Homo sapiens: one gene and its partners. The protein of the gene in region 4 purifies or fractionates together with the protein of the main gene of each other region. This does not show direct contact. Each region holds a gene or a part of one and is shown on either strand. Other genes may lie near its edges.

Region 1 (7,026 bases), on a different chromosome or scaffold from region 4:
TGAACTTGTTTTCTTTCTGCCCATCTCAGAAGACCCAGACATCGTGAATTATAGAGGGAGGCATAGGTTTAAACATGTGTGCCCAATTATTATGCTCTTTAGGTACACAGTATAACCTTCTGATGGATGGACCAAATGCTTAAGGTAGTGCTCTTCATGTATCGCAACTTAGTGCAAGATAAACAAGATTCTCCAGGCATGGTGGCACATGCCTATGGTCCCAGCTACTCTAGAGGCTGAGGCAAGAAGATTCCTTGAGCCCAGGAGTTCTAGGCTGTAGTGTGCTATGCTGATCAGGTGTCCAAACTAAGTTCATCATCAATATGGTAACCTCCTGGGAGTGGCGGACCACCAGGTTGCCTAAGGAGGGGTGTACCAGCCCAGGTCAGAAATGGAGCAGGTGAAAACTCCTGTGCTGATCAGTAGTGATCTTACACCTGTAAATAGTCACTGCACTCAAGCCTGGGCAATATAGCAAGATCCTGTCTAAAAAAAAAAAAGATAAACAGGAAAACAGTTCTTAAGTTGGACTACAACATTGACCAGTAATAGATTTCTTTGAGAAAAATACTCTTTATTCGACATGCACATTGTAATGGCACATTTTTTGCAATGTGTCCCAGACACAGTGATCGGTTTTTGGTTTTTTTTTTGAGACAGGGTCTCTCTCTGTCACCCAGGCTACAGTGCAGTGGTGCAGTCACAGCTCACTGCAGCCTCAACTTCCTAGGCTCCAGTGATCCCTCCACCGTAGCCTTTAGAGTAGCTGGGACTATAAGCATGCACCACCATGCCTGGCTAATTTTTTTTTTTAAAGATGGAGTCTTGCTAGGTTGTCCAGGCCAAGTCCTTTGTCATAATATCTCATTTTTATCTTCACAAACTTAGAGAAAATATCCTCATAATTTTTTTTTATAAAGTGAAAAGTGAGGTCTCAAGGGTCTGAGTAAGCTGTTCCAACTCATGAAGCCAAGGTTCAAACCTAGATTAATCTGAACCCAGGACCTGTGTATGTAATTACTGCCCTGTACAGAATCCTCCTTCATAGCGTGCTCTTTCTGAAACAAAGCATTTTATACAGTCATCATCATTATCTCTTGGACACTTAGAATCTTAGAAGACAACATACAAGTATTGCTATTCTCTACTATCATGATGCTGTCACAGAACAGTTTATTTTCGTGTAGCTGAATGTGCATGTTACTTATTCATAGCTACACTTTGAGTCACCCTTGTGCCATTTATATACAAGGGCAGTTGCTCTAATGAAGGATCTGGTTATGAACAGGGAATTAATCAGAGTTGACCAGCTCATGATTAGCTTCTTTAGTAACTTGCTTTAATCCAGGAGCTGTTTGCCTATCTCAGTGAGTCTGAATCTGTATTCAGAATATTGTGTCTGAACTCATATGCATTTTTCTGGTGAGTCCATAGCTTTCTTTAGTCTCTCAAAAGGTCTCTTCTTTTATCATTGACCACAGGAATATACATAAAGCGTTTTATCTTCTAATAGCTTAGGGTTTCAAAAAGAAACCAAACTTTGATGCTTATGTTGGTGCTGACCTTAGTGCACAACACTAAACATTCCTTTCTTTTAGGAAATGCAAGAGAAACTGCAGAATTTTGCACAGTTACCTGCACACCGAGTCACGGACTCCTGCATCGTGGCACTCCTCTCGCATGGTGTGGAGGGCGCCATCTATGGTGTGGATGGGAAACTGCTCCAGGTGCGGATACCCTGGTGGAAGCCAACTGTTGAAACCAGGCTGCTTTACCTCCTGCCTGCTGTCTGTCAAGTGATGGCTACTGTTGCATGTGTAGGACTTAGGAGGCCCCGCTGAATGCTTAACCTCTCTTCTTCCTTCTTTCTTTCTGGCAGCTCCAAGAGGTTTTTCAGCTCTTTGACAACGCCAACTGCCCAAGCCTACAGAACAAACCAAAAATGTTCTTCATCCAGGCCTGCCGTGGAGGTGAGTGCCCTAGCAGACCAGCACCTGGGTGGTGGCTCCTGGGCAGCCTCCCACCAGCTCTCACTTTCCTGTTTGCTCCTCTCAGGTGCTATTGGATCCCTTGGGCACCTCCTTCTGTTCACTGCTGCCACCGCCTCTCTTGCTCTGTAAGTGTCTCCCAATGCATGGGGTGTGCTGGGACTTGGGCAGCCCATGGCTCTCAGGCTGGTCAGCTCTCCGTGCACCACCATATCCTGTTTTCAGGTCTCTTATCCCGTGTCTTTGCCTTCCTTTCTGAGAACTCTTACTCTTTTCTGTGCTTCATTAACTCTGGTGCCCTTTTTTTGGTTACTCATTCCAGTTACGGATTTTTGATCTGTCTTTTTCCTGTCCTTCTTATTTTATCTCCTTTCTTTCACTCTTTGTTCTTTTCACTTGTTCCATATACTTCCCTGTTTACCTACACTTCCATGCTTGCCTCCTTTCTTCTTTCTTCTTACCATTCTTGGGTCATGCAGGATAGCAGAACAGAATCCGTGTTGGCCTTTGACTCTTCCTTTTCCGTGAGCTGCTGCTGCCCCTCTTTCTCTCATGCAGTCTGTTTTACTCCTTTAAGAGCCAGGACTGCAGGACGAGGATTAAAAGACACATAGGTGTGCTTCTCATCCTGGAGGAAAATAATAGTAATTAAGAGCCCTAACTTTGGAGTCAAATTCTGACTTCACCATTTACTAGTAACGTGAAGTTAAAGAAGTTAAATGGCATCCCTCCATCTCAGTTTCCTCAATATAAAATGAAAATAGTCCTTGTACCTACTTCATAAGGTGCTTGTGATGGTTAAATGAGATTATGCATTTAAGGGCTTACATAGCTCAGTACCTGGCTCACAGCACATCCACAAAATATGCCAGCTGTAACTCTTAAAACACGATCAGTGCCGTAAAGGGCTTATAGTTTGCTTTAAAGGTCACTTTGTCCAAACATTCAAATAATTACTTTTTTAATCTCTCATGTGGCCAAATGTAAATAGCTAATATTATTGTCATCCTGATCTAGTATTACCGCAGAATATAGTCTGCTGAGGCCCTGCAACATGACTCAGACTACGGCAGTTACTACCGCAAAAGCAGAAGGAAATGTGGCCTCTCTAAGGAGCAGACCAGTTACTCAGGAAAATAAAGTAAATATACATGAAGTAGCTTAAGACTAGTTCACAGGCCTCATGTAAGCAAAGGTGAAATTAGCAAGGTACAAACTGTACTTAGGAAGGAGTATGCAGTAAGAGTAGATCATTTTAAGTGAGGGTAGTTTAAAGAGATTTTTTAGATAAGATAAGGCTTAATTTGTACCTGGAGTAATTTGATTTACATAGTTATAGAGTAGTATCTAGAGTCTGTCGTAGGAAAGAAACAATACAATATGATAAGTACACTGAGAGGCAGAGGGCATGTTGTGTCTCCCCTCCTCCCAAACAGATGCTCGGATCTGATTTTAAAATAGCATCTGTGTGAGTATGTGAGATGTGGCTGGTCACAATGAAGTGGGTTCACCTCCTTACAAACCTTTAGTCATAACTGAGGTTTTGGACATCAGCAGGTAAAAGTAAGGAACAGTTGGGAGCTTAAGTAAGAAATAATGTGATGAATTGTTTTTCCAGCAAGGTTGCCATGGAGGGGGCTGCACTAAGGAAAGAGGTTATGGGTCAGCAACTTTACTTTTCATTCCCTGCTCTATCCCCAGGCCCAGGGCACTGCCTGATGCATGGTAGCACTTATAAATGTTCAATGAATGGATGAAAATTAATCTGCCTGAAAAACTGTAGGTATTATGTAAAAAACAAATATGAGGATATTGTGACAAAAGAACCAGTGACATTTATTGATTGATGGATCTGTGATATAAAGGTGAGAGAGGAATTCTCCTTTCTCTTTAGCTTGGCCTGTTTCCTTTAGGCGTCTTTACTAACAAAACGACGTTAAATTGTGATTTTCTCATCCTATATCCAGGGATTTAATACACTATTGGATCTGGATAAGGAGTAATTGCTCTTTTCTGGAGTAATCTGGATCTTTTGCTCTGTCTCTCTAACTTTTCTGAAATTAAATCCTTCAAGGAATGACCAGTAGCCAATTGTTCCATTGAAAATTTGAGTTCACCTGTCTTCCTGCTGTATTTGGTTAATATAATTAATGTCTAGAAAAAGCTCCACCCCCCTGCCCCAGTCAGCTTCTAAACTGGAGTGTAAGCTCCATGACGGCAGGAATTTTCTCTTCACTCTATCCCTAGGCCTTAAAGTAAGACAGTGCCCAACACATGGCAGTTGCTTGACACATTTTTATTAAACCTGTGCTTTGGTCCTTTTCCCCCAATTCTTGAAGCTTCCCTTCTTTCCTAGGCTCCCTCGACATTGCATGGATCAGGAAGTACTGTAAAAGAGCATACTCTTACTTTTGATGTGTTGACCTGAGAGTCCTCCCCATCTGTCTTGCCTACTGACAGCACCCCTGCCCACACCCAAAATAAAACAACATCATCAAAAATAAGAGTCTGTCTTGGGATACATAAGGCTTGTATCAAGAGCAAGGATCTGCTCAGGGTATGTTGAGAAATTACTGCTAAAATTGAATAAGGATGATCTTTTTAAATTTTCTGGGAGAAAACAGTCAAGTTCTCCCCACTTTAAGTTTTTCCTCTTAAAATTTTCATAAGGCCAGGTGCAGTGACTCATGCCTATAATCCCAACACTTTGGGAGGCCGAGGCAGAAGGATCACTTGAAGCCAGGAGTTCAAGACAAGCCTGGTCAACGTAGCAAGACCCCATCTCTATTAAAAAAAGAAAAAAAAAGATTTAAAAAGTTATTTTAAAAAATAAATTAAAAATTTTTTTTCTTAAATCTTGGATGCTTGCTATAATTTATCTTATGAAATTAATAAACATAGTGCTTCGAAGATATCAAAACCACCTTGGAAACAACTGATCATACTTAGTTTTATTATTTTTTGATACATAGTTCGAGGTTGTGATTTTTATATAGCATACATATGGTAACCGTATTTGTTATTTATTACCTTGTTTTTTCTTGTTTATGTAATTAAATATATCAATATTTTATTATGTATTGCAATAAAAAGCACTGTGACTCCCAGGCATATTGTTAATTGAACAAGTGAGTTGTGGACTTAGATGATTTTCAGTTCCATTTACAAGGAGTATTTGATTTGGCATTTTCCCTGTCTTACACAGAATGGGAACTGCTCCAACCGCATAGATGTGCATGTGCTTGAGCGTGGTGCCCGGTGTGTATGAGGCATCCCCTGAGTAACAGATGCATGCTGAGAGAGTAATAATTTTTTTTTTTTTTTTTTAGTTTATCAGCCATAGGTTGGAGGCAACAGCTGGAAATGGCTCTTCCCCTTCAAGGTTGTAGGGAACGTGGGCTTGCCTGTGACAGGCCCAAGAGAGATAGGAAGAAGTAACATCATTGTCCATTCTGTCTGCCTTTGTTACAGATGAGACTGATCGTGGGGTTGACCAACAAGATGGAAAGAACCACGCAGGATCCCCTGGGTGCGAGGAGAGTGATGCCGGTAAAGAAAAGTTGCCGAAGATGAGACTGCCCACGCGCTCAGACATGATATGCGGCTATGCCTGCCTCAAAGGTACTTTGAGTTCCAAAAGAGTTGAGTCATACCTCATTTTGTTGCACTTTGCTTTATTGTGCTTTGCAGGTACAGGTTGAGTATCCCTTATCTGAAGTGTTGGAACCAGAAGTGTTTCAGATTTTGGATTTTTTTGTTTTTTTGGATTTTGGAATATTTGCGTTATACTTACTAGTTGAGTATCCCGTATCCAAATATTCTAAATTTAAAACACTCCCATGAGCACCTTCTTTGAGCATCATATTGGCACTTGGAAAGTTTCAGATTTTGAAGCATTTCAGATTTTTTGGATTTGGGATGCTCAGCTGCTTTTTACAAATTGAAGGTTTGTGGCAATCCTTTGAGCATCTGTCAGCACCATTTTTCTATTGGCATGCCTCTGTTAGCATTTTTCAGCAATAAAGTATGTTTTAATTACAGCATATGCATGTTTTAGACATAATGTTGTTGCACACTTAATAGACTGTAGGATAGTAACCATAACTTCCGTATACACTGGGAGACCTGAAAATTTGTATGACTTGCTTTATTGCCATATTCACTTTCTTAAGCTGGTCTGGAAACAGACCTACGGTATCTCCAAAGTATGCCAATAATCCAAAAGAGTACCCTCCTAGACTTAGATTCTTCATGCTGGGTTCTCTGACTAGGGAGGGTGCAGGTGTCATGGCCGAGTCTAGTTTGGGAAGTGCAGCTGTGTGATGGCATTCACACTGTGATTAATGCCCTTTTGGTTGCAGGGACTGCCGCCATGCGGAACACCAAACGAGGTTCCTGGTACATCGAGGCTCTTGCTCAAGTGTTTTCTGAGCGGGCTTGTGATATGCACGTGGCCGACATGCTGGTTAAGGTGAGCCAGCGGGCTCCGTGACCCCTGTGTGTCTCCACAGTGCTCTACTTTCCTCCTCTCTTGAATGCTCTTTCATAGTCCGTCTCCCCTTCCCGTTTGCTGCTCTCCTGAAGCCCGAGATTCTCAGACTTGGGCCTATTGGTTCTGCCCCTCCAGGTGAACGCACTTATCAAGGATCGGGAAGGTTATGCTCCTGGCACAGAATTCCACCGGTGCAAGGAGATGTCTGAATACTGCAGCACTCTGTGCCGCCACCTCTACCTGTTCCCAGGACACCCTCCCACATGATGTCACCTCCCCATCATCCACGCCAAGTGGAAGCCACTGGACCACAGGAGGTGTGATAGAGCCTTTGATCTTCAGGATGCACGGTTTCTGTTCTGCCCCCTCAGGGATGTGGGAATCTCCCAGACTTGTTTCCTGTGCCCATCATCTCTGCCTTTGAGTGTGGGACTCCAGGCCAGCTCCTTTTCTGTGAAGCCCTTTGCCTGTAGAGCCAGCCTTGGTTGGACCTATTGCCAGGAATGTTTCAGCTGCAGTTGAAGAGCCTGACAAGTGAAGTTGTAA
Region 2 (6,955 bases), on a different chromosome or scaffold from region 4:
TCCCCAGCACCCAGTACAGTGCCTGTAGACCTGCTAAATATATGAATGGTGTTAATCCTGGCAAGGTGCCCAGCATTAGATGGGCCTACAGGGAAGCCTCCAATGTGAGGAACACCAGAGAGTGGTTTGTACAAAGCAGTTCAAAAGCATAGAGGACGAAGGGTTAATTCTGCCCTAGGGGTTGGGGAAGCTGGATTTCTCAAAAGAGGCCACTTTGCATTAAGCCTTAGAGGGTGGGACAGATTTACCCAGGTGGAGACTTGCTTGCTAAAGGGCGGGAACAACCCAAGAGCAAAGGTAAAGAGACTGAGAGCGCGGGACAGGTTGCAGTCGTGTGGTGCACCTGGAGTTCCAGGTATGGGAAGGTGAAAAAGCCCCAGAAAATTATGATGCAGACCTGCACAGGCCGATGCTAGAAAGCCATGCTAGGAGGGTGGACATCCGCTGGTGGAACATCAGGAGATGTTGGAGGTGTTTGCAGAGGGAGGGGGTACCCCGGCGTAGAAGGGCTTTCTAGAGGTCACCAGGATCTGCCCCAGGATCAAGGTGGACTGGAGGAAGCAGTTCCTGGGGCAGGAAGGGCCAAGCTGGGAGGAAGTTTTGGAGGCAACAGAGGGAATCCTTTGTGAGGGAGTGAGGCCTGCACAAGGGCAGGGGAAGAAGCAATAAGATGTTTTCCCTGATCTTGTTAAATCTCACAGGTGCTAGGCAGGGCACGGTGGTTCACGCACTTTGGAAGGCTGGGGTGGGCGGATTGCTTGAGCTCAGGAGTTAGAGACCAGCCTGGGCAACATGGTGAAACCCAGTCTCTACAAAAAAAATACAAAAATTAGCCGGGTGTGGTGATGTGCCTGTAGTCCCAGCTAGTTTTGGGAGCTGAGGCAGGAGGATTGCTTGAACCCCAGAGGTCGAGGCTGCAGTAAGCCAAGATTGCATCACTGCATTCTAGCCTGAGTGAGAAAGTGAGACCTTGTCTTAAAAAAAAAAAAAAAAAACAAAACTCACAGGCACTTGAAAATCATCATGTGTTCAGCCCCAAGCCAGGCACTAAGCAACAGAGGTGGTCATTTCCCAAAAGTCCCTGGTGCTCTTCAGACACTAGGAGGGGACTTCCACGATAGATCCCTATGTCCCTCCCAGTCCCCACACCCTCTCCTCCTTCCCTCAGCTTTATCAGAGGTGTTTACTCTGTACCTACTGTGGGCAGCCCTGGCCTCAGGGCAGCCAGGGCCTAGTCACTGCTCTCTGGAGGAGGCCTGCACAAATGCTGGCCCAGATGTGGCTCCACCCCCATCCTCTAGGGAGCTGGGAAGAAGTTAGATCTAGTGGAAGTGGGGACAAATAGGCAGGGATTCCACGTGTGAAGGGGAGGGCACCAGGAGGGACCTGGATGGTTCTGCGAGAAGGCGAGCAGGGCAGGCTGGAATGCCAGGTGAGAACTCCCTGCTTGGCAGAGCCAGCCCTCCAATCCCACAATCCATTCCCTTTACACCAAGATGAAAGCTAAACTCCCAGCAACCCTGGGAGAGACCAGTGACCCCTCACCTCCCAGGCTTGGGGTGAGCCGGGCCCTGTCCAGCATCAGTCCTGAGCTGAGGGTGCCAGGTTGTCCTCCAAGGCCATCAGAAAGAAGGCACCACGCGGCTGGCTGGTCCCACTCAGTGGATCAGCAGAGGAGGGTGGGTGTACCCTAGAGGACAGCCATGTGTGGTTGGGAGGATGAGACAATTTAACCCAGGCCCCCAGACTGTAAACGGGACAAAGATAGCCGACCCTGCCCTGGGGTCTGGCTGGAGAAACCACCTACGCTCCCATCCAGCGAATCACATCCAGCTGCTCCTCTGAAGATAAACCCATCCTCTCTACCTAATTTCTCTCCTGCCCTCTCCCTGCTACAGGCCTGGCCCTCTCCAGGGACGTGAACTGATTCCCTGTTCATCCAGCCCAGACCCTGGGAGGTGGCGGCCAGAATTAATTAATGTTTGTGAAGTGCTGGAGAGAAGCTAGAACCAAGGACCCAAGGGCGCCAGATGACCGGCGCAGGAAATTGAATGGGAGAGGCGGGGAGAAGGGGCAGCTGGCCAGGACCTTGAAGCCTGGAAGGGGAGGGCTGAGAAGACACTCCTACTGAAGCTGGGAAGAACAGGGAGAGAGCTGTGAGGAGAAGGTGCGACCCCTCAAAGGCACCACGGGATCGGTAATAGAGGATTACGGGCTCCAAGCTGAGCCTGCCCACTCCCGACAGCTCCGCCCTACCCTCAGAGCCGGGCACGTCTCGGCCCGGCTGCCCTTCCCCAACTCAGCCTCCAGCCACCCACCTGCCCGCCCCCGGGACCACCTGCAAAGGAAGCCTCCGTCCCTCCGCCCCCTCCAAAGGCGTGCGCGGGAGGGTAGAGGCTGCGCCGCCGAGGGAGGCTCCTCCTGCCAACTCCAGTAGGGAGCCCGAGTCCTACCTGAGCAAACACTTCACTTCCTTTCTGTAAAAGAAGGAGGCGAGCCGTTCCCGCTCCTTGAGACTAGGGGGACGTCCAGGCCTCTATCGGGGGGCGGCGGCTGGACGCACGCAGCTGGCACCAGGGCCCACGGCGCCCCCTCTTTACCCGCGCCCCTCTCGAGCTCGGCTCACTCACCCCAAAGTGCTGATGAAGCCATTGACGGAGCCCTCGGCGTACAGGGAGACGATGTCCCCGATGTGAAGAAAGCTGGACATTTCACTCATGGCTGCGGCCCTCCGGGGCCCAGGGCGTGGGGGGCGCCTAGGGGCGCGTGGCCAAGCTCAGTGCGGAGGACTGAGGCGTCCGGGGAGCGGGGAGGGGTACGCTCCCACCTCGGATCCCGACGCTCGGTGCGGCCGGGGCGGGCTGGCGGCCACGGGAGCCAGGAGGCGGCTCGGCGGGGCCCGGGGTCCGGGTGAGGAGGTGCCCACGTCTTGGCGCGCCCGCCGCCCGCCCGCCCCGCCCGGCCCGCGCGTACCTGCAGCGTAGAAGGAGCAGGAAGTCTGGGGCCACCACACACATGCAAATCCCGCCCGGGAGGCGGGGAGGCCACACCCCGCCCCCCCTCCCCCCGCAGCTCGCCCGCCGGCACCCATGTGCACCCGCCTGCCTTCCCGCGCCCCGCGCTCCTCGCGCGTCCGGGGCCCGGCCTCCCGGACGCCGAATGCGCCGCCAGCCCTCCTGATCTCCAGAGGCGTCCTGCAAGGCACCGGGTCTAGGGGGCTCTCGGAGCTGCCATCCCTGGGAGGCCCAGGCGTAGTGGGGAGCTCTCCGCCCTCGGGGTTCCCGGACTATCTGCACCCGGGCCCTCGGCTGGCTAAGAGCCAGTGCAGGCGCCCGCGGAAGGGGGAGTCCAGCTCTCCGGCGGGCGTCACCCCGGAGCCGCTCGCGGAGGGCGCGCCCTGGAGCGCCCTGGCCGCGGCCGCCCTGCGGCCACCGCGCGGTCTCCGCGCCCAGCTGAGAGCAGGCTGGCGCCCAGAGGCGCGCTCATCCCTTTGCAGAGCAAATTCGGGATTCATTTTTCTCAACGTGAAAAGCCTTTTCATTGCACAATAGAAAGTGCTCAGGCTTGGAGGGGAAATGAAGCAATGGGGTGGGTTTTGTTTTTTTTCTCTCCGCATTCCTGTGTACAAAGAGATCCAACTTCCGAATCAGTTCAGCCGCTCCCTCTCCAGGAGTTGGCTCCAAAACTCTTGGCTCCTTCCGTCTTTCCTTTCAAAAAAAAAAAAAAAGCAGGGATGAAAATTACCTTCGCTAGTTGACAGAGCACCCAAGCGCTAACGATGCCAAGTCTGGGTGCCGGCCCCCTGGGAGTGACCCGCTGCGGCAGCGCCGCCAGGCTCTGGCTCCCGAAGTCCTGCCCTCAAATTCGCGTCCCGGGCTCGCTTACTTTCTGTTCTGTTCCCCGGTGCTTGGGTGTTTGCTTCCTAGTCCTTTATTTGAACGCCTAAGATAGGGTGCCCATTGCCACCGCCATCCGATCACTTTTGCTCCCTTCGGACCCCCCAACCCCACTTCCTGAGTTGTGGGGGGGCGTTTGTCCCTGGGAGAGAGGGAGGAGGGGACTCGGTGACTGAAGCAGGAAGAAGAGAGGCTAGGGGAGGGGTGGAGACAGCTAAAAGCAAAGAGACAGCTGCTGACCCTGGGAGGAGAAGAGCCCCAGGCAGTGGTTTTTTTGTTGTTGTTGTTGTTTTGTTTGTTTGTTTGTTTGTTTGTTTTACGAAGACCCCCAGGAACGATGTGGGAGGGAAGGACACCTCCAGGATCGCTAAGTACCGTGTTTTACAGTTTTGTTTTGTTTTTTCACCATGGCAAACAGTAACAAGTTTTACAGCAGACCAGTCCACACCTTCGTCTATATATAAGCAAAACAATAGATCACCAAACAATACTTACTTTTATGACCTTTGATGCATGCTGATATTTTCTATTCTATTTCAGTTGTGTTCTTGTTGTTGCTTTAATGCTGATTGTAACCCACTGAACTGGTTTTTTTTAATGTCCCAAATGGGTTGCAAACTGCAGTTTAAAAAACCTCATCCAGTCCACTGTGCCAAAAAGAGATGACCAAAGCCCAGAGAAGGAACACCACCCATCAAGGGCACACGGCAGGTTCCTGGCAACTGGAGGCAGAAGCCAACCAAGCCTCTGATTTTTAGCCGGGTATTCTCCTATTACCCCACACCAACTGAGCCACAGCGATGGGTCACTGGAACCTCACTGAGAAGGGGCAGCCCCTGGGACAGTTTCACTTGCTCCCAGGAGTCAGGCCTCCTGTATCATCCCCAAAAGTTAGAAGGGAAAAATATGCCTTCATTCCATAAGCATTTATTGAAGGCCTGTGATGTCAGGCCTCTGCTGGGCACCAGGCTCTGATCAAGCTGTCAGCCTGGGCCCAATTGCCTTTTTCCCTTCCCCAGACCGTGAGGATGAAGAGGGACAAGTTGAAAACTTGCCTCCAGTGGCCACACTCAGAACTTGTGCCACAGCCACACCCAGGAATCCACCTCCTTCCTCCCCTGACATCCATATAGATGGTTCCATAACTCAGCCGAGGTGTAGCAGCCAGGAATGGAGGTCACTCCACTTTGGGTCTCTCTGGACTAAAGCACATGGCCTTGTTTCTCCCCACCCCTCCCCATCCTAGGAATACTTAGAGCCTCTGTCTCTCCACCAACCAGGAGGTCTCAGAGGTGAGGGCTCTGGGCCCCTGTCACCTGCTTCTTCCAAATCAGCTCCACTGTAAGCTATTTTATATACCTGCGTTCTGAGTTAGAATTTGTTTCAAGAAAGTTTCTGTTGGTTAAACAACAACAACAAAGACCAAAGTTTAAGAAACAGATGGTACAGCTCCAATGAGTTCCCTCCCCTGCTTCCTGCTTGAAGCCTTCCTATGCCTCCTCACTGCCCACAGAAGTCTACAGACCTGAGCCCAGCACACTGGACCCTCAAGTCTTGCTGTCCTCCCACCCTCTGCAGAAAACACAATTGCTCCTCAAGGAGGATCCATGCTGTAGACTGGCCAAGAGTGCAGACTCTGGCTCCCTTTTTTTTTTTTTTTTTTTTTTTAGACGGAGTCTCACTCTGTCGCCCAGGCTGGAGTGCAGTGGCGCAATCTCAGCCCACTGCAACCTCCACCTCCCAGGTTCAAGCAATTCTCCTGCTTCGGCCTCCCGAGTAGCTGGGATTACAGGTGCCCGCCACCACACCCGGCTAATTTTTGTATTTTTAGTAGAGACAAGTTTTCACCATGTTGGCCAGGATGGTCTCAATCTCTTGACCTCATGATCCGCCTACTGCGGCCTCCCAAAGTGCTGGGATTACAGGTGTGAGCCACCACGCCTGGCCCGGACTCTGACTCTTACAGGCCTGGATTAGAGTCCCAGCTCTGCCACTTTCTAGCAGGCATTCTCTCAGCCTGTTTGCTCATCTGTTAAATGGAGAGAGTACCATACCAACATGTGAAGGAAGTGTGAGCCATCAGCACAGCATCCCAGGCAGGAAGGACTCAGTGTGTCCCTTCTCATTTCCCCAGGACCTCATCCACTCATACCCCTGTGCCTGCGCTCCTGTGGCTCTCTCTAGCACTTCACCTTTTCAAGTTCCCATGGTCAGAATAAAGTCTTCTTCCCTAAAGTACTGGAGCACTAATCTTTTAAGTACTATTATGAAATATTTTAAGAAGTAATAGATAAAAATACAGTGAGTGCCTGTATCTTTCCTCTAGCTTTGTCAAATCTTTGTATTTTGCCAAATTTGGTTCTTTTTTTTTTTTTTTTTAAGAATTAAAACTTAGGCCGGGCACGGTGGCTCATGCCTATAATCCCAGCACTTTGGGAAGCCAAGGCAGGCAGATCACCTGAGGTCAGTAGTTCACGGCCAGCCTGGCCAACATAGTGAAACCCCATCTCTACCAAAAATACAAAAATTAGCCAGGCATGGTGGCATATGCCTGTAGTCCCAGCTACTCGGGAGGCTGAGGCAAGAGAATCACTTGAACCCAGGAAGTGGAGGTTGCAGTGAGCCGAGATCATGCCACTGCACTGCAGCCTGGGCGACAGAGTGCAGTTCAATCTCAAAAAAAAAAAAAGAATTAAAACTTAAAAAATTTCAGTTGTGTCCAGGCAAGGTGGCTCACATCTAATCCCAGCACTTTGGGAGGCCGAGTCTGGAGGACCACTTTTGCCCGGGAGTTCAAGACCAGCCTGGGCAACATGGCAAAACACTGTCTCTAAAAAAAAAAAAAAAAAAAAATTAGCCAGGCATGGTCGTGTGCACCTGTAGTCCCAGCTACTTGGGAAGCTGAGGTGGGAGAATCACCTGAGCCCAGGGAGATCAAGGAGGCTGCAGTGAGCCATGATTATGCCACCGCACTCCAGTCTGGGTGACAGAGTGAGATCCTGTCTTAAAAAGAAAAAAGATCAGTTGAAGTTCCTTATGCACCCTTCTCCAACTACATT
Region 3 (7,026 bases), on a different chromosome or scaffold from region 4:
TGCTTTTTCGTTTAACTTATGATAAGCATTTTCTACATTGCCCCAAACTCTAACCATATAATCTTCCTTTTTGGGAATGTATTATAATTTTTTTTTTTGAGAGAGAGAGTCTCGCTCTGTCGCCCAGGCTGGAGTGCAGTGGCACGATCTCGGCTCACTGCAAGCTCCGCCTCCCAGCTTCACGCCATTCTCCTGCCTCAGCCTCCCGATCAGCTGAGACTACAGGCGCCCACCACCATGCCCGACTAATTTTTTGTATTTTTAGTAGAGACGGGGTTTCACCATGTTAGCCAGGATGGTCTCGATCTCTTGACCTCGTGATCCGCCCGCCTCGGCCTTCCAAAGTACTGGGATTACAGGCGTGAGCCACCGCGCCTGGCCGTATTATGATTTTTTTAACCATTTCACCCATTCTTTGGACATCTGAGTTTCAAGCGATAAAAAGGATGAAGATACAGTTTTAAATGGATGTATAATTTCTACCGTACAATAGCAGTACTCAAGAAAAATGCATTAGCAGGAAGATATGGGTGATTTTCTGTTGGTATAATACATATTATTTACTAAAGAGGTGGGGAGCAGGTCCCTGTGGACCAGCTGTGACTTTGCGGCAGCCCCACTCCCCATCTCCGCAGTAGCCCCTACCCTTGTTTTCCCTCATCCTTCAGGGATGAACCACTGCACTCAGGTCTCTCGGGTCAAGCACCTACCCAGAACGAGTGATGGGGCCCCTAGCAGTTGGGAGGACTCTGCCCAGTCTCCAGGGGCAATTCCTACCAAGGTTCAAGCCATTGAGGCCCTTGAGGGTGTGGGTTTGGTGTTAATGGATCTTTTGAATTTTCGAGAGAAAGAGCAAGATTACTCAATTTCTAATGTGAGGGGTTCCTGACTTCTTATTGTCAGTGGCCAATTCAACTTTAAAAGTACAATAAGTCTGGGCACAACACAACACAACTGTATGCAGAATAAGGTCCATGTCCTCTGAACAGTCTGATCTAGAGGAAGGAGACCGCTTACCCCAACACTGTCGGAAGGAGGGGCAGCAAGGAGTGATAGAAAGAAGCAGCAGCAGAAACCCAGGAGGAGAGAAAAAGAAAGGTGGGGGCAGCACCCACAGGGAGCAGACGCTGGGTTCCTCCCCACCCCTGGGCCCTTTACGTCATAGCCACAGCTCCAGGCCCCACTGGGCCTTAACTACCACCTGGTTCTGTTCCTGCAGATTCTTTTTCATTCCAAGGAAGAGACCATCTTCCAGAGCCAAGGGAAAGCTCTACTCAGACCTCCCATAGCGTGAGACTTCCCAGGGAACCTCCTCTAGCAGAGCAGGCTGTCCCTCCTCCTGTAGGCCCAGCTCTCTACAGTGATGGCTAAAAACAAGCTCCTTTTCTTCAAGGGTTGTACCAGTTAAATGCTAGATTGGGCACGTGCTTCAGTCATTCATATAACTTCTCTATGGCACCACCCTCAGGGATTTGTGGGTCAAAAAGGTATCTTCAGTCACGAAAATTTACCAGACCCACCCTAGAAAAAAAGCTGATCTTAACCTGAAAATCACTGTTGGAGACAAGAACCACATTAAATAACCCAGCTAAGGCAGGGGCTGAGGAGAGTCAGCAAATGCTTGTTGGTATCTTCTGTGCATTTGGGAGATTCTGGAAAATCTTTGGCAACTTCAGGAAAAAAAAAGTACTTTTATGGCTTTTCTTGTGCTGATAATGTTTTCTACAAAAGAGATTCCGGGCATAGTATGTCTGTTATTGCTCTGGGCACAGTAGGTCTGTTAAAATTACTGTTCCAGTTGTTGAAAGAATTTTGTTATTATTTGGTTGCCTGCCTTTATGTTTTTCAAAGGCAGTGTCTTATGGAGTAACTAAATATTTTAGTTAATAACAGACCTTATCTGGCATACTTTTAAACATCTATGACTATAACATTTAATAGAGTTTTTCATAGATATTAGAAAGATAAATTTTGGTTGATCCACTCAATATGTGACTCTTTGAAGTCATGTTACCTACACTAATCAAGATAGTGTGGTGCTGGCATGAGAACGGGCATATACATCAATGGAATAAAATAGGGAGTCCGGAAATAAACCCTCACATGTATGGTCATTGATTTTTGACAAAAGGGCCAAGTCAATTCGATGGGGGAAAGAATAGTTTTTTCAACAAATAGTGTGGGGTAACTGGATATCCACATGCAGAAGAATGAATTTGGACCCTTACCTTACATTGAATGTAAAAATAAACTCAAAGTGATCACAGACCTAAATCTGTAAGTTTTAGTTACAAACCACTTAGGAGAAACGCAGGAGTAAATCACAATCTTGGGTTAGGCGATGACTTACTAAATATGACACCAAAAACGTAGCAGTAAGAGAGAAAATTGCTAAGTCCAATTTCATCAAAATAAAAAACTTTTGTAATTATCCAGTGTAAGATATTTTGTCATAACAGTCTTGGACTAAGACAGAACTTATATCCAGAATATGCTGTATAAAGACCTCTTAGAACGCAACATCAAAGAGACAAATAATACAATTAAGAAATGGACCAGGGATTTAAGCAGACATTTCTCCAGAGAAGGTATACAGATGGTCAGTTAGCACGTGAAAAGATGCTTAACATCTCTGGTCATTTGGGAAATGCAAATTAAAACCACAATGAGACAGCACTTCACTCCCATTAGGATGGTTATAACTAAAAGGAAAAATGGGCTGGTTGCAGTGGCTCACACCTGTAATCCCAGCACTTTGGGAGGCAGGTGGATCACCTGAGGTCGGGAGTTCAAGACCAGCCTGGCCAACATGGTTGAAATGCCATCTCTACTAAAAATACAAAAATTAGCTGGGCATGATGGCGGGGGCCTGTAATCCCAGCTACCCAGGAGGCTGAAGCAGGAGAATCGCTTGAACCCAGGAGGTGGAGGTTGCAGTGAGCCGAGATCATGCCACTGGACTGCAGCCTGGCGACAAAGCGAGATCCCATCTCAAAAAAAAAAAAAAAAGAAAAACGATGACAGGTGTTGGGAAGGATGTGGAGAAATGAGAATCCTCAGGCATTGCTGGTGGCAATGTAAAATGGTGCAGCCTCTTTGGAAGTTCATCATTTGAGGAGAGGCAGTTCCTCCAAAGGTTAAACATAAAGTTAACTTATGGCCAGTCATCCCAATCCTAGGTATCTACCCAACAGAAATGAAAACAACTGTCCACAAAAGACTTCCATGTGAATTTCTTAGTCTGAAAGTGGAAACAACTCTGTCAGCTGATTCATAGATGAAACTTTATTTGGCAATAAGAAGAAATGTAGTTCTGATCCATACTATAACATGGATAAATCTTTAAAACATTATGCTAAAATCCAGTCACAAAAAAAAAAAACATGTATATTGTATGATTTCATTTATAGAAATGTCCAGAAGAGGCAAATTTGTAGGATGGAAAGTAGATTAATGGTTGCCTAAGACTGAGGAAAGGGGAATGGAGTGAGTGCCAGTGGGTATGGGATTTCTGTTGGAAGTGATAAAAATATGCTAAAATTAGATTATGGTGATGGTTGCACAACTCTAAATATACTAAAAGCCATTGAACTCTATACTTCATTATGTTATGTAAATGAGATTTCAGAAAACCTGTTTTTTAAAAAGGCGAGTTAGGTAGCAAATGCACGTGGTGCTGAAGCTGTTCCTTTTAGAGCCGGCTCTTAGCATTCTGTGTCCTGAGCATTGTGCTGTGAGCTAAGAGATAGAACATGATTTCTGCTTCCCCCACCCCTAAAAAAAGGTTTGGGAGATCAGAAGATGTAAAACAGAAACCCAGAATGCTCTTCTAAGAGTTAGCTACAGAGTAAATAAAAGTTTGAAGAGACTTCCTCAGGCAGGGGAAGACAGAAGTTTCATAGACAAGATGATAATAGTAAGCTCACTGCTCCATTTTTTATTTTTAAAAACTTGCCACCCAACTCATAGGGGGCAGAGACTATGTCTTAACACAGGGCCTACCAGCTTCAGGGTAAAATCAATGAAATCTTTAAACTGAGGCTAGGCATGGTGGCTCACGCCTGTAATCCCAACACTTTGGGAGGTTGAGGCGGGTGGATTACCTGAGCCCAGAAGTTCAAGACCAGCCTGAACAACATGGCAAAACCCTGTCTCTACAAAAAATACAAAAATTAGCCAGGCATGGTGGCGCACACCTATAGCCCTAGCTACTCAGGAGGATGAGGTAGGAGGATGAGGTGGGAGGATGGCTTGAGCCTGGGAGGTGGAGGCTGCACTGAGCCATGATGGCACCACTGCACTCCAGCCTGGGTGACTGAGTGAGACCCTGTCTCAAAGAAAAAAAGTTTACATGACTATGAGTATGTTCCATAAATGAATCCTTTGAATGTTATATATGCTATGAATATTTCACTTAGCCTTTGGCTTATTGTTTTTTGTTGTTGTTGTGACATTGTCATGTAAAAGTTTGTAATTTTTACATGGTAAAACTTATTTTTTTAAAATAAGTTTTTAAAGTTTAAATAAAAATTATTTAAAATAAGTTTTAAAGCTTTAGATCACAGGTCCCCAACCCCCATACCGGTGACAGTCCGTGGCCTCTTAGGAACCGGGCCACACAGCAGGAGGTGAGCCACAGGCGAGAGAACATTAGTGCCAGAGCTCCATCAGCGGCATTAGATTCTCTTAGGAGCACAAACCCTGTTGTGAACTGCGCACGTGAGGGATCTAGGTTGCGTGCTGCTTATGAGACTCTAATGCCTGATGATCTGAGGTGGAACAGTTTCATCCCAAAACCTTCCCCCAACCATCTATGGAAAGATTGTCTTCCATGAGACTGGCCCCAGGTGCAAAAAAGGTTGGGAACTACTGTTTTAGATGACATTTCCTACCCTAGTTATAAAACACATTTTCCTATAAATTATTCTTCTTTCCTTTTTTACATTTAGGTGTTTATAACCCTAGTCCAGGGCTTCTCAACCTCAGCACAGGGGCATCTTGGCTGGGTAACTCTCTGTGGGGGGGCCATCCTGTGTACTGTATGATGCTTGCTGCATCCCTGGCCTCTACCCACAAGATGCCAATAGCACCTGCACCCCAGATGTGACAGCTAAAAATGTCTCCAGACATCGCCGAATGTCCACTAGGGAGCAGGATCAACCACTGCACTTGCGTTAGACCCCAAGTGGTTAGAGAGCCACTGCACTTGGGTTAGACCCCTCTTTTTTTTTTGAGACGGAGTCTCGCTCTGTCGCCCAGGCTGGAGTGCAGTGGCACGATCTCGGCTCACCATAACCCCTGCCTCTCGGGTTCAAGCGATTCTCTCACCTCAGCCTCCCGAGTAGCTGGGACTACAGGCATGTACCACCACACCCAGCACCACCATACACAGTTTTTGTATTTTTAGCAGAGACGGGGTTTCACCATATTGGTCAGGCTGGTCTCGAACTCCTGACCTCAAATGGTGATCCGCCCACCTCGACCTCCCAAAGTGCTGGGATCATAGGCATAAGCCACCGCGCCCAGTCTTAGACCCCTCATTTTTGCAGCTGAGGAAACTGAGGCCCAGAGAAGTGGTGTGGCCTGAGCCAGGTGGCCTAGACAGATGGTGGCAGAAATCTCAATTCAAAATGCAGGACTGGGAACCTCCACTCCTCGTTCTCTTTTTTTCCCTGTTTTTCCTGTCCCCAGCCGTGAGCACCTCTGCTGTGCTAGGCACTGGGTAGCTGCTGGGGCCACAGCAGGGAAGAAAACAACATAGACAAAGTGATGAAGACAAGACTCCAGGTCATGATTAGTGCCATGGAGCCAACACAGAAAGAGTGCTGGGATCCCACCAGTGACAGCATGGTCACAGGGAGCCTCTGCAGAGGTGGCTCACTCACTGACAGCTCTGTGAGTGTGGGCATGCCTTTGGTGTGTATGTGTGCGTTTCTACCACCACAACACTGTCAGGATGGTCTAGACCCTGCTCGCAGTCTTGTTCTGCCGGGGTGTGTTGGGCGCCCCCAAGGCTGCCGTCATGCTTGGGGGTTTTCTGAAAGACTTGAGACTTAGCATATGGTTGTATTCAACTAACATTCACTGCAGCAGCGTGGTATGGATGCACAGCTGGGTGTTAAGGGAAAAGGCGCATGTAGCAGAGTCTGGAGGAATCCACGTGGGGCTTCCTTACGCGCACTCCCTCCCTCAAGGGGTTGTACGAAGTGAATACTTCCCCCCGCAACGAAACTGCAACACGTGTGATGTTTTTGCCCAGGGAAGCAAATGAGAGACTCAGTACCCAGAGTTTTGGCTGAGGGCTGGCTTTATACCCTCGGCCCAGCATGTTCCAGAATTCCACACTCCCATAAGCAGGTAGGTGTCAGCATAGACCACGTTGTTCATACAAAAGGGTCTAGGCACGGTGAGCCAAGCTACTCTTGTCAGTTAAAAAATGGCGGGAACCCTCCCAAAATCCAAGTTCCCAGACACCATCCAGGCACCAGCCTTGCAAGTGATAGCACTCTTAACCTGCTACGCTGACACTTTGCTGTGTGCGGGAACTTTCCAAACCAAGGCTTTGACCAGAAAGCCGGTAATAGGAATTTACTCGGAGCCTGGGGGCCACTGCTTGGGGCTGAGAGTGGGGGACTGAAGCGTGGCCTCCCCATTGACTGGTGATGGAATCTGCCCTCTCTTGTTTGCCCTCTCCAGTGTGGGGCTGCCTTCCAGGAGGATGATGTCATCATGCTCAATGGCACCAAGGAGGATGTGGACGTGCTGAAGACAAGGATGGAGGAGAGAAGGCTGAGAGCGAAGCTGGAAAAGGTAATGGGAGTCTTCAGGTTCCGCCCAGCCCCCATCTCTGCTCCAGAGCCGACTGCAAATCACTGAACTGAGCTGGCAGCTGCTTAGGGGTTTGCATGATCAAGGCGATTTTTATAACCTAGAAGGGCCTGGACTGTAGAAGCAGATTCCAGCTGAGGCCCAGGCACTGCCTTGCTGTGGTGAGCACGGCGGCTCTGCTCTTCCCCGCCGAGCTTT
Region 4 (7,026 bases):
TTGGATGCCTTTCATTTCATCTTCTTGCCTAATTGTTCTGGCTAGGACTTCCAGTACTATGTTATTAGAAGTGGTTAGAGTGGGCATTCTTGTCTTGTTCCCAATCTTAGAGGAAAAGCTTTCAACTTTTCATCAGTGAATATGATGTTAGCTGTGGGCTTGGCACAGATGGCATTTATTATGTTGAGATACATTCCCTCTATACATCTTTGTTGATAATTATTATCATAAAAGGATGTTGAATTTTATCAAATGCCACTTCTGCATCTATTGAAATGTCCACCTAATTTTTATCCTGAATTCTGCTAATGTGTTGTCATATTTACTGATTTGTGTGTGTCAAACCATCTTTGCATCCCAGAGATAAATCTCACTTGATCATACTGTATGATCCTTTTAATGTGCTATTGAATTCATTTTGCTAGTATTTTGTTAAAGATTTTGCATCTATGTTTACCAGGAATATTGGTCTGTAATATTCTATTATTTCAGTATTCTAGTCTGCCTTTGGTTTGAGGGTAGTGCTGGCCTCATAAAATGAGTTTGGAAGTATTCCCTCTCTGTCAATTTTTGGGGAAAATTTGAGTAGAATTTGTGTTAATTCTTCTTTAATGTTTGGTGGAATTCACTGGTGAAGCCATCAGGTCCTGGAGTTTCCATGGTTGGAAGGTTTTTGATTACCGACTTAATCTTCCTACTTATTCTGTTCAGATTTTCTATTCATGATTCAGTCCTGGTAGGTTGTACATTTCTAGGAATGAATTCATTTCTTCTAGATTATTCAATTATTGGCATGTAACTGTTCATAGTAGTCTCTTATGAGCTTTTGTATTTCTGTGGTATCAGCTGTAATGTCTCCTCTTTCATTTCTGATTTTGAGTCTTCTCTCTTTGTTTCTTAGGTTAGCTAATGGTTTGTCAATTCTACCTTTCAAAAAAGTTTTAGTTTAATTTTTTTCTTGTCTCTATTTCATTTATTTCTGCTCTAATCTTTATTATTTCCTTCCTTCTGATAACTTAGGGATTAATGTGTTCTTCTTTTTTCTAGTTCCTTGAAGTGTAAAGCTAGATTGTTTATTTAAGATCTTTTTTTATTTTTTATGAAGGCATTTATCACTATTAACTTCCTTCTTCAAACTACTTTTACTGCATCTCAAAAGTTTGTTATGATGTGTGCTATTTTGATTTGTCTCAAGATATTTTTAATTTCTCTTTTGATTTTTTTCCTTGACCCATTAGTTGTTCAGGAGTTTGTTGTTTAATTTTCACATATTTGTGAAAACTGAAAATTCACAGGAGTTTTTCAGTTTTTCCCCTGGTATTGATTTGATGACAAAGTCATTATCTTTCATAAAATGATATTTCATACAATTGCAAAGAGAATAATAAAACTTTTTGTGAGAATATAAACTGCAGGCAATTTAAAGAATATCTTTGGAACATTGCTTACATGTGTCCTCCCATATATGCTTTTACTCCCACAGTTCTTATTTCTTTTAGACTACATTTTTACAACAGCTCCATACAATGTATCTGATTCTAACCCTTTAACCTTCTTTCAATATACCATACACACTGTCATCACCTTCATTGTCAAATCTGCTACCTGAAAAAAATATTTAAAAAGTCCCATTCATAACAGAATGAAACCCAAACTCCTTATCTTGCTATGCATGGTGCTTCATGATCTGGTATCAACATGCCTTTTAATCTCTCTCAACCACCATTTCCCCTCATAGCCTTTTGTTCCAGCCAAACAACATGTTTTCTACTGCTCAAACACTGTATTTTCATATCTTTGTTGTTGGCTCAGCCTGCACCCTAAATGTGGAATGACCTTTCACAAATCTTCTTAAATCCAACTTATCTGTACCCAGATGAGCTAGCAAATAAAGGTTTAAATAAGTAAAGAATTTAGCTTTTATCATGTAAAAAGGAGGTCCAGACATGACCATCTATTGCTGGTAAAGTGTTTTCACAGAACCCTGGGGAACTCTTGACTTCTTTTAGATTTTATACTTCCGCTTCTTGCCTAATGGTTGCAAAATTACTGCTTCACCCCCAATACTACACTCACATTCCAGAAAGGAAGTGGAAAAAAATAGAGAAAACAGCATATGGCAGCCAAGTCTTATCACCTTTTTTAAAATTTCCCTACACAGCAACTTCCAAATATATTTCATTGGGCATAATTATATCATAACTAATCTTAGCTACAAAGAAAGCTGACAAAATATTTCCTAGTCAAAAAATGTTGTACTAGTGAGGAAGGAAAATAAGGTGAAACCGATATGCATTCAGCAATGTTGGCCTTAATATTTGTTTATTTTCATAATTGTCTTCTCCTGGTTGTCTGGAACTTCAAAGTCATCTTTGTACCTTCTAGTGCAGCATGCACAAAGAAGATACTTATTATATATTTGAGTAAGTTTAACTTTATAAATGACAAGGGAAAGAGAACCATTTTTGCATTTAAGCATGATTGTATTCCATCGTAATGAAAGCATAAACTTAGATAACTTGATCAAGAGTAAGCAAACTACTGCCTGGGGGCAAAATGTCGCCTACATTGTTTTTGTGCACACCATGAACTAAGAATAGTTGATACATTCTTATAGGGTTTTAAAAAATAAAAACAGGAATATGTAGCAGGGACTGTATATAAACTGCAAAGCCTAAAAGATATGCCGTCCGGCATTTTACAGAACATATTTGCCATCCCTTGACACCGGTTAAAATGTACTACATTTCTTTTTTTTAGTGTTATTTAAGGATCTAGTTGTATTATTCCAGGGTCATTGGAGCCATCTTTGTCTTTTGAAACAATGTATGTGAGAAAACTTGCCAGCCAACCCTTTCTCTTGTCAGGAAATTCAAATGTCCTACCCATTCCACAGAGAAACTGATGTTAGGACTTCCATAATGCTCCTCACTCAGACTTATGAGCTAAATTTCCAGGTTTGAAAGTACACTATAATTTTTGATTATTTTTAAGTAATAGTGTTCTCCTACCACTATACAAATTTAAAGAAAAAAATTATAGTTCCAAAGCAGAAATAAGCATGAGAGCCAATTAATTGTATTTCACACATGCAATTATTGGATAACTCTATATGTGAAGCTAAAGGGACAAAGCAATATTTTTCCTATTGACTCTGCTCCATAACTTGACTAAATTATCCAAGCCAATGATCTGAGGAAGCATATGTGAAACCACCTAGAAGTATTTTACTTTCATGTTGTGTAAGGTATATTTTAAGTTATCTTAATGTTGCATAAAGTCTTCCCATAATCTCAAGAAGGACAGGGAGCAATTTTATCTTACTTGTCACTAAATCCCCCAGTGCCTATTGCAGTGCCTGGAAGGGATTTTATAAGCTGTGTGTGTGTGTGTCTGTGTGTGTGTGTGTGTGTGTGTGTGTGTGCGTGCACATGTGTACATGCATTCCTACTTCCCCTTCATCTCAAGGCAATGAAGTATTGTTTCCATTGTCATATGTCACCTTCTGTTAATGATGAGCAGATCACTACATGGACGAAGTTAAGGAGCTCTACTTCTCGCATATAAATTCTACTTTTCCTATGTAAGTTCTACTTCATCCACGTAAGTTTAGAGTGCTGGAAAATAACATATGAAGAAAGTAAAATGTAAAACATTGGCATGGTTTCTGAAGGTCAAATATATAGTCACTAATGGAATCAGGATCAACACCGTTGCTCAAGCATAATACCACGGTGTCTCTGTTTCACTAAGTTTCCTCTCCTGTAAATAGTCCATGTCCTTAAATTTGCTGGATTTTTTTAATAAAAGTAAGTCATGTAATCCCAAGTAATATGAAGGTATACACAAGTACTCCAAAAAGGTTCAGAATAAAGTAACTGAAGTAACAAGGCACACTCTATTGATATGCATTAAAACAAAAAATCTCAACAAACCAAGCAAGTTTCTTGCAGAACCTAAGGACTTCTATATTTCATTAAGAAAATGTATTGTAAAGGTAAAAAAGCAAATGATAGAACAGAAACAGCGCAATATTCTGAATTGAAGAAACAGTGCAATATTCTGAATTACAGTGGTCTTTAAGTAAATAATAAGCATTAATATTCTCTTCATAAAGACGAGTTTACTAATTTAGTATCATAAAAACATTTTTTTTCAAAAGCCATGTCCAAGTGGGCACCAGTTAAAATAGGACAGGGGTGATTGTTACACTTTCAATTTGTGGAACATTTTTCTTCCTTAAACATTCCAGAGCTTTTATGCAAACATAATTATTAAAGTGCATATGTCATTGGTTCTGAACTTAATATCTGAATTTTCTGTGAGAAAAACAAGGAATTCTTTTCATTTGGATCCTGACTCAGCACTTACATCCCATTTACTTTTAGTCACTGTGTTTCTGCTTACAGTATGTGAAATACTCTCACCAGAACAAAGGTCCCAGCGTCAATAAGTCAAACCGCAGACTCTGACAGCTGAGTGAATAGCAGAGGCCAGAGTCCACTTGAAGTGTTCACACTCTCAGAGGCCAAGTTTAGATCTTATCTGCCTGAGATTCCTTTTAACACTGATTTGTCATAGCAGGTAGCTGACAGCATCTACTCCTGAAGACCGGAAACATGGCTTGTACCATCCAAAAGGCAGAAGCACTTGACGGGGCTCATTTGATGCAGATCCTCTGGTATGATGAGGAAGAGTCTCTCTACCCAGCTGTATGGTTGAGAGACAACTGTCCGTGCTCTGATTGCTACCTGGATTCTGCAAAAGCACGGAAACTTCTAGTGGAAGCTCTTGATGTGAACATTGGAATTAAAGGCTTGATATTTGACAGAAAAAAGGTAATTATCTCTAAATTATGTCTCCCTTCTTTCTCAAGTTCAATAATGGGGCTAGTCAACAATAATTTAGATAACTCTTTTTTATTTGGTCACGCATATATAACCGCATATGAACCCACGTTTGTATAGTACTTGGTGCGAATTAAGTATATTCAGTAAATGGAAGCTTCAGCTATTATTATTACTATTATCATTACTACTACTATTTTTAATAAAATTTGCAGTGTTACTTGTCTTTTAGTCAAATTAGTATGTAGAGATACAAGGCTTGTTCTGGGATTCCCAAAAGCACAGCTCTCAAAACTACAAACCAGAGGCAGCCACCATTCCATGTTTCTCTCTTCCAAATTTACTAGGATTCTTATTATGCTCTTGTCCACATCCCGACTTGAGGACTTTACTCCCAGATTTCACTGCTTGCTAGCTAGATAGAAATGTTGTTTACTCTTACATTTCTCACCTGAAAAAAATGAGAATAATAGTAGTACCTTCCCCCTAGAGTTGTAAAGATTAAATGTGTTATGTCTATAGTACTTGTTATGGATACTCAAAATAGTGTTATTTTTATTATTGCTGTTGTACTCCTTATCATCACTACTATTACTTACTTTTATTTATTTATTTTTGAGATGGAATCTTGCTCTGTTGCCCAGGCTGGAATGCAGTGGGGCGATCTCAGCTCACTGCAACTTCCGCCTCCCGGGTTCAAGCAATTCTCCTGCCTCAGCCTCCCAAGTAGCTGGAATTACAGGTATGGGCCACCATGCCCGGCTAATTTTTGTATTTTTAGTAAAGACGGGGTTTCACCATGTTAACCAGGCTGGTCTCAAACTCCTGACCTTGTGATCTGCCTGCCTCGGCCTCCCAAAGTGCTGGGATTACAGGCATAAGCCACCACACCCAGCTGCACCATTACTATTTCTAATACTCTTGGCAGGAATCTTAATTGACAACTAGCTTCAGTTATCACAGAAAGTTTGGGGATCCCAGGTTTAGAGGATGTAGGTCAAGAACTGTAGATCTATCCATGCTCTATTTCTTGAGTGCTATTTAAGGGCCTCAGACCTCAGATGTATTACTTTGGCTTCCTTGTTTTCCAAAAGCGTATGCTTAATCTCTGTCTTAAAAATTAAGCTGGCCAGGCATGGTGGCTCACGCCTGTAATCCCAGCACTTTGGGAGGCTGAGGCGGGCGCATCACAAGGTCAGGAGATGGAGACTGTCTTAGCCAACATGGTGAAACCCCGTCTCAACTAAAATACAAAAAATTAGCCAGGCGTGGTGTCGCGTGCCTGTAATCCCAGCTACTTGGGAGGCTGAGGCAGGGGAATCGCTGGAACCCGGGAGGCAGAGGTTGCAGTGAGCCGAGATTGCGCCACTGCACTCCAGCCTGGCAACAGAGGAAGACTCCGACTTAAAAAAAAAAAAAAAAAAAAATTAAGCAAAGCATAATTGGATTCCCTGATTATCTTAAACAGCATTCAAAAACAGAGCAATAGTGGAGAACGGAAATAAAATCCACATAGGTGAAATTTGCTTTTTGTGTTATAAGGTGTACATCACATGGCCCGATGAGCATTACAGTGAATTCCAGGCTGATTGGCTGAAGAAAAGATGCTTTTCCAAGCAGGCCAGAGCAAAGCTCCAAAGAGAATTGTTTTTTCCAGGTAACTTTGCCAAAGTCTTCAATGTCTTTTTAAACCCTTACAGTAAAGGATTTTTATTAAGAAATTTGCTCACAGAAAATTCAAACCTTTGTGCTTTGATTAAAATATGTGACATGTAAATTATGTGGTGTATTTAAAGTTTTACCGACAAATATCATTTGGGTAGAGATGAAAAGGAGTATAGAGTAATTCTAGACATTCTACAGAGAAAGAAACAAAATAAGTCCAGCAAACTTGTGTCTTTGTCATCTAAAGCAAAACCTGGCACAGCATACCACAGACACTCCGTAAGTGTTCACTACAAAGAAGCAGGATGAACTAGAGGCAGACTGGCCCTTTATAACAATTTTGTCTAAGGCCAGAACAACACAAATCAACAAAGCAAGAATTCCTAACCTGGTATTCATAGATGGAATTATGGGATTGATGAACCCATGAAACGGTACGCATAGCACTGCAAATGCCAGTGAGTGTGGGACAATTTGTGTGTGTGCATGTACACACACATGCACACAAAGCCAC

Evidence for each region.
Region 1: the proteins of BBOX1 (region 4) and CASP2 purify together in Homo sapiens (affinity purification with mass spectrometry; 3 studies listed by BioGRID and IntAct, with this or other methods). This does not show direct contact.
Region 2: the proteins of BBOX1 (region 4) and ITPR3 purify together in Homo sapiens (affinity purification with mass spectrometry; 3 studies listed by BioGRID and IntAct, with this or other methods). This does not show direct contact.
Region 3: the proteins of BBOX1 (region 4) and RTF2 purify together in Homo sapiens (affinity purification with mass spectrometry; 3 studies listed by BioGRID and IntAct, with this or other methods). This does not show direct contact.

Annotation. Positions count from the first base shown.
Region 1 is NC_000007.14:143,298,325-143,305,350, forward strand, and holds part of CASP2 (caspase-2 isoform 1 preproprotein), read left to right. Parts: intron 1-192; exon of another isoform or gene 193-488; intron 489-1,598; coding exon 1,599-1,727; intron 1,728-1,879; coding exon 1,880-1,970; intron 1,971-2,055; coding exon of another isoform or gene 2,056-2,116; intron 2,117-5,459; coding exon 5,460-5,609; intron 5,610-6,349; coding exon 6,350-6,459; intron 6,460-6,615; coding exon 6,616-6,747; 3' UTR 6,748-7,026. UniProt on the Homo sapiens protein: Is a regulator of the cascade of caspases responsible for apoptosis execution. Might function by either activating some proteins required for cell death or inactivating proteins necessary for cell survival.
Region 2 is NC_000006.12:33,617,367-33,624,321, reverse strand, and holds the start of ITPR3 (inositol 1,4,5-trisphosphate-gated calcium channel ITPR3), read right to left. Parts: upstream 3,001-6,955; 5' UTR 2,720-3,000; coding exon 2,631-2,719; intron 2,534-2,630; exon of another isoform or gene 2,454-2,533; intron 977-2,453; exon of another isoform or gene 1-976.
Region 3 is NC_000020.11:56,506,619-56,513,644, forward strand, and holds part of RTF2 (replication termination factor 2), read left to right. Parts: intron 1-6,696; coding exon 6,697-6,810; intron 6,811-7,026. UniProt on the Homo sapiens protein: Replication termination factor which is a component of the elongating replisome. Required for ATR pathway signaling upon DNA damage and has a positive activity during DNA replication.
Region 4 is NC_000011.10:27,050,812-27,057,837, forward strand, and holds part of BBOX1 (gamma-butyrobetaine dioxygenase), read left to right. Parts: intron 1-4,557; exon of another isoform or gene 4,558-4,581; 5' UTR 4,582-4,619; coding exon 4,620-4,838; intron 4,839-6,389; coding exon 6,390-6,504; intron 6,505-7,026. UniProt on the Homo sapiens protein: Catalyzes the formation of L-carnitine from gamma-butyrobetaine.